2 separate regions of the Homo sapiens genome follow, and region 2 is linked to region 1. Evidence: fine-mapped expression QTL. A gene starts in region 1. The other region holds a variant in brackets. All regions are shown on one strand. Distances are between the middles of the regions. Region 1 holds the start of SLC5A12 (solute carrier family 5 member 12). Region 2 holds the start of BBOX1-AS1 (BBOX1 antisense RNA 1).

Evidence for each region. PIP is the estimated chance that this variant, and not a neighbour inherited with it, causes the effect. A credible set is the group of variants that fine-mapping cannot tell apart.
Region 2: its variant is the best candidate, but not a certain one, in a credible set for the expression of SLC5A12 in spleen (GTEx, PIP 0.53).

What each region holds. Positions count from the first base shown.
Region 1 is chr11:26,719,183-26,724,567 of GRCh38, forward strand. SLC5A12 (solute carrier family 5 member 12) reads right to left here and starts at 2,878. Exons shown (of 15, transcript NM_178498.4): 1 at 2,194-2,878. The coding sequence starts at 2,532.
Region 2 is chr11:27,215,978-27,221,362 of GRCh38, forward strand. BBOX1-AS1 (BBOX1 antisense RNA 1) reads right to left here and starts at 2,791. Exons shown (of 4, transcript NR_125768.1): 1 at 2,682-2,791; 2 at 1,340-1,503. It overlaps LOC105376600 (a long non-coding RNA gene), which reads left to right and starts at 3,768. Exons shown (of 4, transcript XR_931141.3): 1 at 3,768-3,821. RefSeq lists an enhancer at 1-366. The variant T/C (reference allele first, on the strand shown) is at 2,638.

The sequences.
Region 1 (5,385 bases):
ACAGTGTTTTTATTTCATTTAATTTCTGGAAAATGTGCTAATTTATAGTGTGTGTATAACTTTTTATTGTAAAGTTACTGTGCACTAAGGTAATACTAATATGTGCAGTAGTTTTTGAGCATTACGGCATTAAAATATCATGCAGTGCAGAGTGAAATTACTCATTGTATATGTGCCTTTACACACTGAAAGACATCTGATGTCTCTGCCCTCAACTCCCTAAACATCAGTAGTGACTCCTAATCATTGTGACAACCAAATATCCTACAAATATCCCAAGTGCTCCCTCTGTGTGGCACTAGCTCCACTGAGACCCCTGCTGTATATAACTGGGCACTCCCATCTCTTTGATCTTATCTTTTACCATTGTCCCCTTTGCTCTCTCCTCTCCAAGCACACTGATTTCTTTGCTGTCCTTCAACATGCCAGTCACACTCCTTTTCTAGGGCCTTTGCATCTGTGACTACTTCAGCCTGAGATGCACTTCCCTTGTCTGGTGCAATTATTTGCTTTCTTCCAGTCTCCATTTAGACGTCTTATTTTACTTGAAGTTTCATATGATCACCCTCTATGAATATGGACATTCTCTACTCATACCAGCATTCCTCCTCTCTATCTCATCCTATTTACTTTACTTTTTCTCCATTTGTTTTTGTAGGACAGGACAGCATAGTTATTTAGCATATGATATCTAAAGTTAGACTGCCTGGTTTGAAAAACTGTTACTTGCTAGCTTTATGTCACTTAGCAAGTTACTTAATTCTATATGCCTCAGTTTTCTAGTCTGTTAAAAGGAGGTGACAGTACCTGTCTAAAAAAGATTGTTTTAAGGCCAAAAGACTTAACACACATAAGGAACTTAGAGAAGTACTTAGCACATAGTTAAATACCATATATATTTGTATTATGATTTTCTTACACAGTATATGTTTATTGACTGCCCTTCTCTGCTATGAAGTAAGCTCCATGACAGCAGGAACTTGGTGCAATGCTTTATGCCTAGGGCTACGAGAATGCCTAGAACAAGCTGGGTGTGGTGGCAAACTTCTGTAGTCCCAGCTACTTGGGAGGTTGATTCAGGAGAATCACTTGAGCCCAGGAGTTTGAGAACGGCCTGGGAAACATAGCAAAAGCCCCATCTCATAAATAAATAAATAAATAAATAAATAAGTAAATAAATACATGGAAAAAAAGAAGAGTGCCTTTTTAAGTATCTTAAGAGTAGATGCTTAATGAGTATTTACTGAGTGAATAGTCATAAAAATTACATTACATAAAACTATGGAATCAATAACACTTTTTAAGACTTCCTAAAAAGTGTTCATTTGCCTGAGTGACTTTTGAAGGCTAGAATAATGTTTTATACTCATATAGCTTACATATTTAAAAAAAAATAGGTCTCTTTTCAGTCTCCTGCAGTGACTTTAGGAATGATATTGGATAATGAAAATAAATACCTTATTAATAGAAACTTATGTTTGATCACATTTCTATATAGAGCATGCAAATTCAATTTTGAACATGATGTCTTCATTGAGAATCATTGTAAAGCCAAAACACCACTGCCTCATTTCCCTCACATTAAATAATTCCCATATTTGTATTATTTAGCAATTCCTTTCGTTAAAATGTTTTGTACTTTTCAAAAATGTTTCCATTTCCTCATTAAAAATTAGTCTTATTATAATTTGTATTAAAATGCCCTCTACTCTCTGACGGAAAGGCCACTAAGTAGAGATACAGAAAAAATTAGGTTCTCAGGTCACTTTACTATTCAAAAATCTTAACTAAGTCATTTATCTGTATCTCAGTTTTCTTAGCTGGAAAATTGCCGTACTCATGAGAAATGTTCTGTTTGCTTTTCAGAATGATGACGTTCACAATAATAAAAAATAACATCAGCCCTCTTTATTGCAAACCTCCTACAAATGAGGCCATACATTAAGTGCTCACATAGAGGTTCTCATTTGATCATTAAAATAGCCCTGTGGGATTGTCATCATTATTTTCCTTCTACAGATGGGAAAATAGATATGTCTGTCTCCAAAGCTTAGGCTTTTTACAAAAACATTTTAATGTCTTTCTCATAATGTGTAATTATCCTGAAAATCAGTGAGTGTTCTTCAACTACCAGGTGCTATCATCAAGAGGATGAGAAAAAAAAATTAGAGAAGAATGGAGAAATCATCTTACCTCATAAGTGCTGGTGATACCAGATCTGTAGAACACAGGGAGAAAGAGCTCTGATGTTAAGAGGATGACAAATAGGTAAGCAATGAAGAAGACTAGGAAGGATGCCCCAAAGCGGTAGACTTCAGAAGGGGTCCCCAGGACCGTGACAGCTGACATGAAGCTGGCTGTCAGAGACAAGCCGACAGGGCCAAAGCTCATTTGCCTTCCCCCAACCAGGAACTCTCGGGAAGTTGCCTTTTTTCTCTCCTTAATGGCAAAGAACACCCCAATTCCAGAGGAAATGAAAAAGAGGGCTGCAAATACAACATAATCCCAAACTGCAAAGTTCTTCACCTCCATATTGGAAAGTATGACACCAGAGAGTTTCTTTCAACGAGGTCTCAGGAAGAAGATGTTTCCAAAAGCAAAGTTCAGTACAGTGGATGCTTTGCTGAGAGGAGAGACTGTGATTCCCTGAAGAAAATGATTACCAGAGGCACTCGTGTGAATCTTCAGACACCAACGTGTACTTAGTGAAGATCTCAAAAGTTGACTTCAAAGAAGAATCTGGTGGTGGTATTGGCACCAAGAGATGAGAATTTGAAATCTGACCCTAGCTAAGAGCTGTCTGCTCCTCTCCTAAAGCATATGCCACAGAGAAGGAATTCAGATGTGTTCTGAAATTAATAACCACTGGGGGTGGAATGGACTGGCCAGATAACATGCTGTTTTATCTCTTAGATTTTTTTTAACTTAAGGTTAAACATTTCTGGGAAACATAGAATTGATAACAATTTACCACCTCAGCATTTTTAATTCGTGAGATGGAATCTGTAAAATGCAAACACAATCCTCAGCAGTGTCTTCCTCTTGAAGAAGGGAGAGTGAAGGCTGTGTGCCTGCAATTGTCTGAGGCAGTGGATGTGGAGAGAAAGAAGCAAAGGACTAGGAATTCAGAGACCTTTGCTCGAGTCCTGGCTCAACCACGAGAAAGCCATGAAACATTTCATAAATCATTTAACATTTCTGAACTTCACCTGGAACACAGGGATAATAAGACCTTACAAGGTCTTTAAAGACTTAAGTCTTAAACTTCCTGACTCTCTTTGTCTTGATCTGTAAAATGAAAGGTAATAATATGTACCCCATTGGCTATTATCTGTGCTTACAGCAGAGCACTCTGGAACATCATAGCTTTTCTTTCTTTATTCTAGGACCTAGAAAAATCAATTTGCCATTAATTAATAAATTATTTATAGCCTTCAACTTTATCTTGTCTTTCTCTTATTTTCACCAGGTTACTATCACTGTACCCACAGGCTAAGTTAGAATTAGGACCAGGACAAATTAGAGAAGGAAGGTAACAATCCAGTTATAAATTCCTGTTTCTGCTCTCTTTAGACTCTGTCAATTGTTCCAAAGTACCTCTAGTGCAATTTCTAATTTTGTTCATGCTTCTCCTCCTTCTTCAGTGGCCTTCTCCATCCCCACCTCTACAAAGCTTGTGTATTCTACAAGATCTAGTATGAGTTTTCTCTACTCTGTGAAGCTTTTCTGCCTCTCCACGTCAACTCCTGTAGAACGTAGCCTCCCTAGTACTCATTTTGTACTCAGCCATCATCTTGCCTATTTTAGGGAATCTCTATGTAACCGGCTACAGGAGTCTGTCAGCTGTTCAAATGACATTTCCTTGAAGACAGAAGCAAAGCTCTAGTCCATATACCCAATACATTATAGCCATTGTAGAAAATAAAAAAAATAATTTTTAGAAAGGAGAAAACTAAAATTATCCATAATGCCCAAAGACAGAAACATTTCCAGCCAAACAATAAAACAAAAAACGCTCTAATTTTGCTTTTCACATCTGGATAACTGAATAAATCTTTGCTTCATGAATTTGAATTAGACCAAAGAAAGGTTTAATTAGATAGCTAAAGTATGCTTTTAGTTACCAATAAAAATATGAAGACTCTCCCAAGAGCTGTCTGTGTCCTCTGTTTAAATTCCTCCACTAGATTTGGAGATTTGATATGATAAATGTTACTGCAAATCTTGGTCTTTAATATATTTACCTTAACCTGGGCTTTTAATTATTTGTATCATGAAGTATTCCAATTATATATGAGGTTTTTGTTGTGATCTCAGCAGAAAATCAGAACTTTTTTAGCTTTCAGAAACTTGACTCCTTTATAGTTTAATATTTACACTACCTAATGGTTAATATTCAATCTATAAAACATGTAATCCCCTTGTATAAGTCAGGTTAAGAATGGTTCAAAACATTATCATCAATAACTTTCTAAAGGTACATACTAGAAACCTATAACAAAAGAGTTAATGAGTACTGATGGTTTTAATTAAACTTTGTGTAGTAACAGTATTATCTGCATGACTCCAATTAGTCTTGAATTTTGAAGTGGTAGGGAGCAGATTGGTTAATACCTGGGATATGAAGAAACCTTTATGCCTCTTAGGAAAGTATTCCTTGCTTTCAACATTTTGTTGATTATAAGGCACAGCATCAATTCAGTAATTTAATTTTCAGTTATTTTCTACATATTTACCCTTTTCTCCCTTTGGTAGCATTCGTTGTCCTCAAACGCTCTTCTTAATTCCATAAAGACTCACTCCATGCAAAGTTCATGCAGATTGTAAAGCACAGCAGCAATTCATAACTTTTCAGGTGAAAAAAAAAAAACCCCAGTACATTCAATGACCTCATTAATTAGAAGGCACATTTCTATATCAGAAATGTTAATATAGCGAGAAGGAGGGAAAATATGCTTCTTCGACCTGAAGAAATCCCTGTAGCGCCTCTACCCTCTCTCATGTGCACAGAATACTGCCATTTGTATTTGACTCATTTAGTGTAAGGCTTGAGACCCTGTCAGAATATAAACACCATCACCTGTTACTCATACATGGCCTTAACAAGGTCCTGCTACTCAATTACTCACATGCTTAACAAGTTAAATTTGTAATTGCTAACATTAGTAGTCTCCGCAAGGTAAAATAGTTCAGCAATTTGCATGCAACAAGTTGTAATGGGAAAGAAAGAGTTTGATGATATCAAATGCTACCAAAAGAGAAAAAGGTAAAGAACTGGAAGAAATGGGGCATTAAAAACAAAACAAAACAAAACAAAACAAAACAAAACAAAACAAAAAACACCATTGTTGCAATGTTGCTAAGAGTGAACTCTGCACACCATGG
Region 2 (5,385 bases), 500 kb after region 1:
GAGGTAGCGGGGGAGGGAAGGATATGCAAACTAGGAAGGAGTCTTGGGCCTGGGCTTCTCTTTTCTTCAGGCCATTAATGCCAGGAGCCACCTGCCTCTAGGTTTATTTCTGTCTCCTCTGGCCATACACTGCACAGATTCATGATAAACCAGATGCTGCCAGTGATATCTTGGCTGGGTCCACAAGAACTATCAAGTGCCGTGAAAGGAACATGGGTTTTAGAGTCCAAGACTCTGGGCTTGCATGCTGGCTCTGCCCCCATGTGTGCCCTTGGGCACTTCTGAATCTCCTCTTCCTCTTCCTTTTCCTTTTCCATAAAAAAGAAATGATAACCAGCTTGAGAGGTCATGAGGATAAGATAAGCTAAGATTAATGAACTTGTCAGGTACACAATGGCAATGGGAAAATGCTAGCTTCCTCCCTTCTCCTGAGCAGCTGGACAAGGAAGGGGGTGGGCGTCAGGGGGAGCTTGGGCAGCAGATGTCACATTTCAACGTGTTCCTCCCTAGCTCAGGCTGCAAGGCCTGGGCACTGAGCCCACTCCAGCCTGAATTCTCCCGACAGCTGCTCAGCTTCTCTACTTGTCCTTGCTCATGACTCCTGATTGAACCAAGAAAAGCCTCTGCTTTGCTCCAGTGACAAAAAAATAAATAACAAGAATGATGTAACATGTGTCTCTCAAGGCCATCAGCCACAGAGAAAGTCCAGGCTTCCGGATCTGTACCCCAAATCCACACCAGGATTCCAAACCAATCCCCTGCTGTCCCGTGGATTCTGGTAGCTCCTGTGTTAACCCTCTACCTGCAGGCAGCTCTGCCTCCCCCTTGTCTTGTGACCAAGGCCACCAACACTGTCACTGAGGCACAAAATTGGCTGGAGGCAGGAAATGAGTTCCTAAGCACTAAGTCTTTGCAACCTGATCTTTAGTAATAATTTATTACTACATTATACTAGTTTAATTAGTAATAACTAATTATTAATACTAATTAAATTACTGGTTTATTCAGCAATAAATAAATAAACACTTATTGAGCACAATATGCCAGACACTCTTCTAAACTCTTTATGTTAACTTTTTTAATCTTCACAAACACATTTTGAAGTAGGTACTGTTCATAACCCCATTTTACAAAGAAAAAACTGAATTTTAGGGAGTTTAATTGCTGAACCAAGGCCACAGAATTGGTGAGTTGCAGGTAAAATTTGAACCCATTTCTGCAGATGTCAAGTTGTGTTTTTTTGTCTTTCCATCATGCTACTGACACCCAAACCAAATGAAACTGGCAGCCCGGATTCTTTCAGAGAGATGTTGTAAAAGAGTTCCCCCAGCAACCTCACCTGTTAAACCCCCAAATTAAGTCTGAAGAGCAAAGCAGGAGTCTGACTGCTCTTCAAAGGGAGAGATGTCAGGAAGCATGATGTAGTGAAGCCTCTCTCTGCTAGGTGCTAGAAGTGTACTCCTAGACCTGTCAGCGGCCCTCTTTGGTATTCAGGATCTTCATCTGTAAAAGGAGAAGATAAAAGTAATTTGGCTTCGACAAGATTCCTTCCAACCCTGACATTCCATAATCCTATGAAACAGCTACCATTTATTATTTCCTCTGTGCCAGATACTGTGCTGAGTATTTCACATAATCGCAAAATCATCACAGCCAACAAATAGCTGTGATGGAGCTGCAAATGATGGAGCACTGCTTATTTGCCAGGCTCTGCTGTAAGTACTTGCCCCTGTATTATCTCATTTAATCCTCAGAACAACACTAAGAGGAAGGTATTATTATCCCCACCACCCTCAAGGATCTAAGGCTCAGAAGAATGATACAAAGCTACTCAAAGTCTCCCAATCATTAAGTGCTGCTCTTGGGGTTTGAACCCAGATTTTTCTGACTCCATAACCCATGCTTTTAATCACTGTACTACTTCAAGTGCCCCCTCAACGTCAGGCAAGGGCAGACACCAGGAATAGGCTGTGTTGGTTTTTGGTTGCCCCACTGACTATCCATCTGCAGTTGTTTTTCTTCCATTCTGATCATCAATCATAGTGTGACTTAAATGGGTCAGGATAAGGAGTCCCCAGCTGCCATGCACAGCCACAGCAGCCACTGCCCACAGTCCTTTCTGTGGGCTTTCTGGGCAGCATTAGTGGAAAGTCCTATCTGTGAAGTAAACTAACAAGATTGGGGGAGGGGTCCCCTTATTTATTTAATCATCACTCCCCAAGGCTAAACTGGTGGCCTGGCAACAGTGAGTATTTTCTCTGAGCTCAGAAGCCAACTCCAAGTGTTCAGGGTGAACAGGTTGGGAAACTTGAGAACCACACAGACATCAGGAAAAATTCCGTGAGTGGTTGTCTGTGGTGAAATGATGATATGGCCCTGAGTTTGCTCTCCCCAGGAGAACTTGGAAGCTGCCCCCTTTTCCACCTCCCACCTCACTTGGAACTAAGTAAACCAAGAAATTCTAGGAAGCAGCCCAACCTGAAAGAGCTGGCTTCTCCAGGAAAAGAGAGGGGAGGGTGAAGAGACCCAGGGTCTGTCCGTCCCAAGGGGATGGTCAGTCACAGAAGTCACTGACCAGCACTCCAGGCCAGATCTCACTGGTCCGGCCACAGATTTTTCTAATCCTGTGAGTTGAAC[T/C]GCACCCAAATGACTGCAGATGGGATCAGAGATGGAGGTCTCACCAGTCAGAGGAAAAGCATCCAAGTATCAGGAGAGATGCATAGTTCTAAGAGGAGCCATCTAAAAGCAGGCAGAGTTTGAAAGAAACTTCCAATTAAAAAAAAAAAATGCCTTTCTGTGAGGTCACTCCCTGTGAGGCAGGAGAATAGGGTCTGGAGGCAGGGAACATAAAGCCGATTCATGCTGACTTCCTAGAACTAAATCAAATGGAAACACTTCAGCTATGACAGGAAATACCCTCTCCATTTACACAGGGCATACACTGAGTAAATGACTTTGTAACTTCTTTGTAACTTTGCTTCTTCCTCTTCATCTACATAGGGTGTAACCAAGTAACCAATGGAAACCTCTAGTGCATATTTAAACCCCAGAAAATTCTGTAACAGGGGTCTTGAGCCCCTGTGCTTGGCCCGCTCCCACCCTGTGGAGCGTGCTTTCATTTTCAATAAATCTCTGCTTTGGTTCCTTTATTCTTTCCTTGCTTTGTGTGTTTTGTCCAATTCTTTGTCCAAGATGCCAAGAACCTGGACACCCTCCACTGGTAATAACTACAACCAAGGTCACCACATCACACTACCTGTACTTTGCTCCCCAAAAACAGTTGCTAGCATTTATTCAGAACCTTCTCTGTTCTATCAGTTAAAAAAAAAAAAACCCTAGTAATTTCTGGAACAAAATCACAAATATACTCACTTTCACAAACAGTGTAGACATGTCAAGAATCCTATTTCTTACCCACAAGAGGACCAGTCTTGTCCCTTTACTGTGTGTTTTTGATTGCACTGGTCACTAAGTTTTTTCTCAGCGAAACAGCACCTTATCAATACATCATTGGTATAGGTTTGTTGGCTTTCAATCATAGTGGTATCATTTTATTCCTGGGCCCCAAGGGAATTTGGGGCCACAAGGATCTGATTTCAAACTTCAGCTCAGCCATTTTATTTCTTCAAGACCCTAAACAAATAACCTATGCTTTCTCAGCCTTAGTTTTCCCATCTACAAAAATGGAGCTAGTCCTAGCACTACCTACCTCAAGAAATTGTTACAGGAGGAGCCAAGATGGCCGAATAGGAACAGCTCCGGTCTACAGCTCCCAGCGTGAGCGACGCAGAAGACGGGTGATTTCTGCATTTCCATCTGAGGTACCGGGTTCATCTCACTAAGGAGTGCCAGACAGTGGGTGCAGGTCAGCGGGTGCGCGCACCGTGCGCGAGCCGAAGCAGGGCGAGGCATTGCCTCACTTGGGAAGCGCAAGGGGTCAGGGAGTTCCCTTTCTGAGTCAAAGAAAGGGGTGACGGGCGGCACCTGGAAAATCGGGTCACTCCCACCCGAACACTGCGCTTTTCTGAAGGGCTTAAAAAGCGTCGCACCACGAGATTATATCCCGCACCTGGCTCGGAGGGTCCTACGCCCACGGAGTCTCGCTGATTGCTAGCACAGCAGTCTGAGATCAAACTGCAAGGCGGCAGCGAGGCTGGGGGAGGGGCGCCCGCCATTGCCCAGGCTTGATTAGGTAAACAAAGCAGCGGGGAAGCTCGAACTGGGTGGAGCCCACCACAACTCAAGGAGGCCTGCCTGCCTCTGTAGGCTCCACCTCTGGGGGCAGGGCACAGCCAAACAAAAAGACAGCAGTAACCTCTGCAGACTTAAATGTCCCTGTCTGACAGCTTTAAAGAGAGCAGTGGTTCTCCCAGCACGCAGCTGGAGATCTGAGAACGGGCAGACTGCCTCCTCAAGTGGGTCCCTGACCCCTGACCCCCAAGCAGCCTAACTGGGAGGCACCCCCCAGCAGGTGCACACTGACACCTCGCACGGCAGGGTACTCCAACAGACCTGCAGCTGAGAGTCCTCTCTGTTAGAAGGAAAACTAACAAACAGAAAGGACATCCACACCAAAAACCCATCAGTACATCACCATCATCAAAGACCAAAAGTAGATAAAACCACAAAGATGGCGAAAAAACAGAACAGAAAAACTGGAAACTCTAAAAAGCAGAGCGCCTCTCCTCCTCCAAAGGAACGCAGTTCCTCACCAGCAACGGAACAAAGCTGGATGGAGAATGACTTTGACGAGCTGAGAGAAGATGGCTTCAGATGATCAAATTACTCTGAGCTACGGGAGGACATTCAAACCAAAGGCAAAGAAGTTGAAAACTTTGAAAAAAATTTAGAAGAATGTATAACTAGAATAACCAATACAGAGAAGTGCTTAAAGGAGCTGATGGAGCTGAAAACCAAGGCTCGAGAACTACGTGAAGAATGCAGAAGCCTCAGGAGCCAATGCGATCAACTGGAAGTAAGGGTATCAGCAATGGAAGATGAAATGAATGAAATGAAGCGAGAAGGGAAGTTTAGAGAAAAAAGAATAAAAAGAAATAAGCAAAGCCTCCAAGAAATATGGGACTATGTGAAAAGACCAAATCTACATCTGATTGGTGTAACTGAAAGTGATGGGGAGAATGGAACCAAGTTGGAAAACACTCTGCAGGATATTATCCAGGAGAACTTCCCCAATCTAGCAAGGCAGGCCAACGTTCAGATTCAGGAAATACAGAGAACGCCACAAAGATACTCCTCGAGAAGAGCAACTCCAAGACATATAATTGTCAGATTCACCAAAGTTGAAATGAAGGAAAAAATGTTAAGGGTAGCCAGAGAGAAAGGTTGGGTTACCCTCAAAGGGAAGCCCATCAGACTAACAGCGGA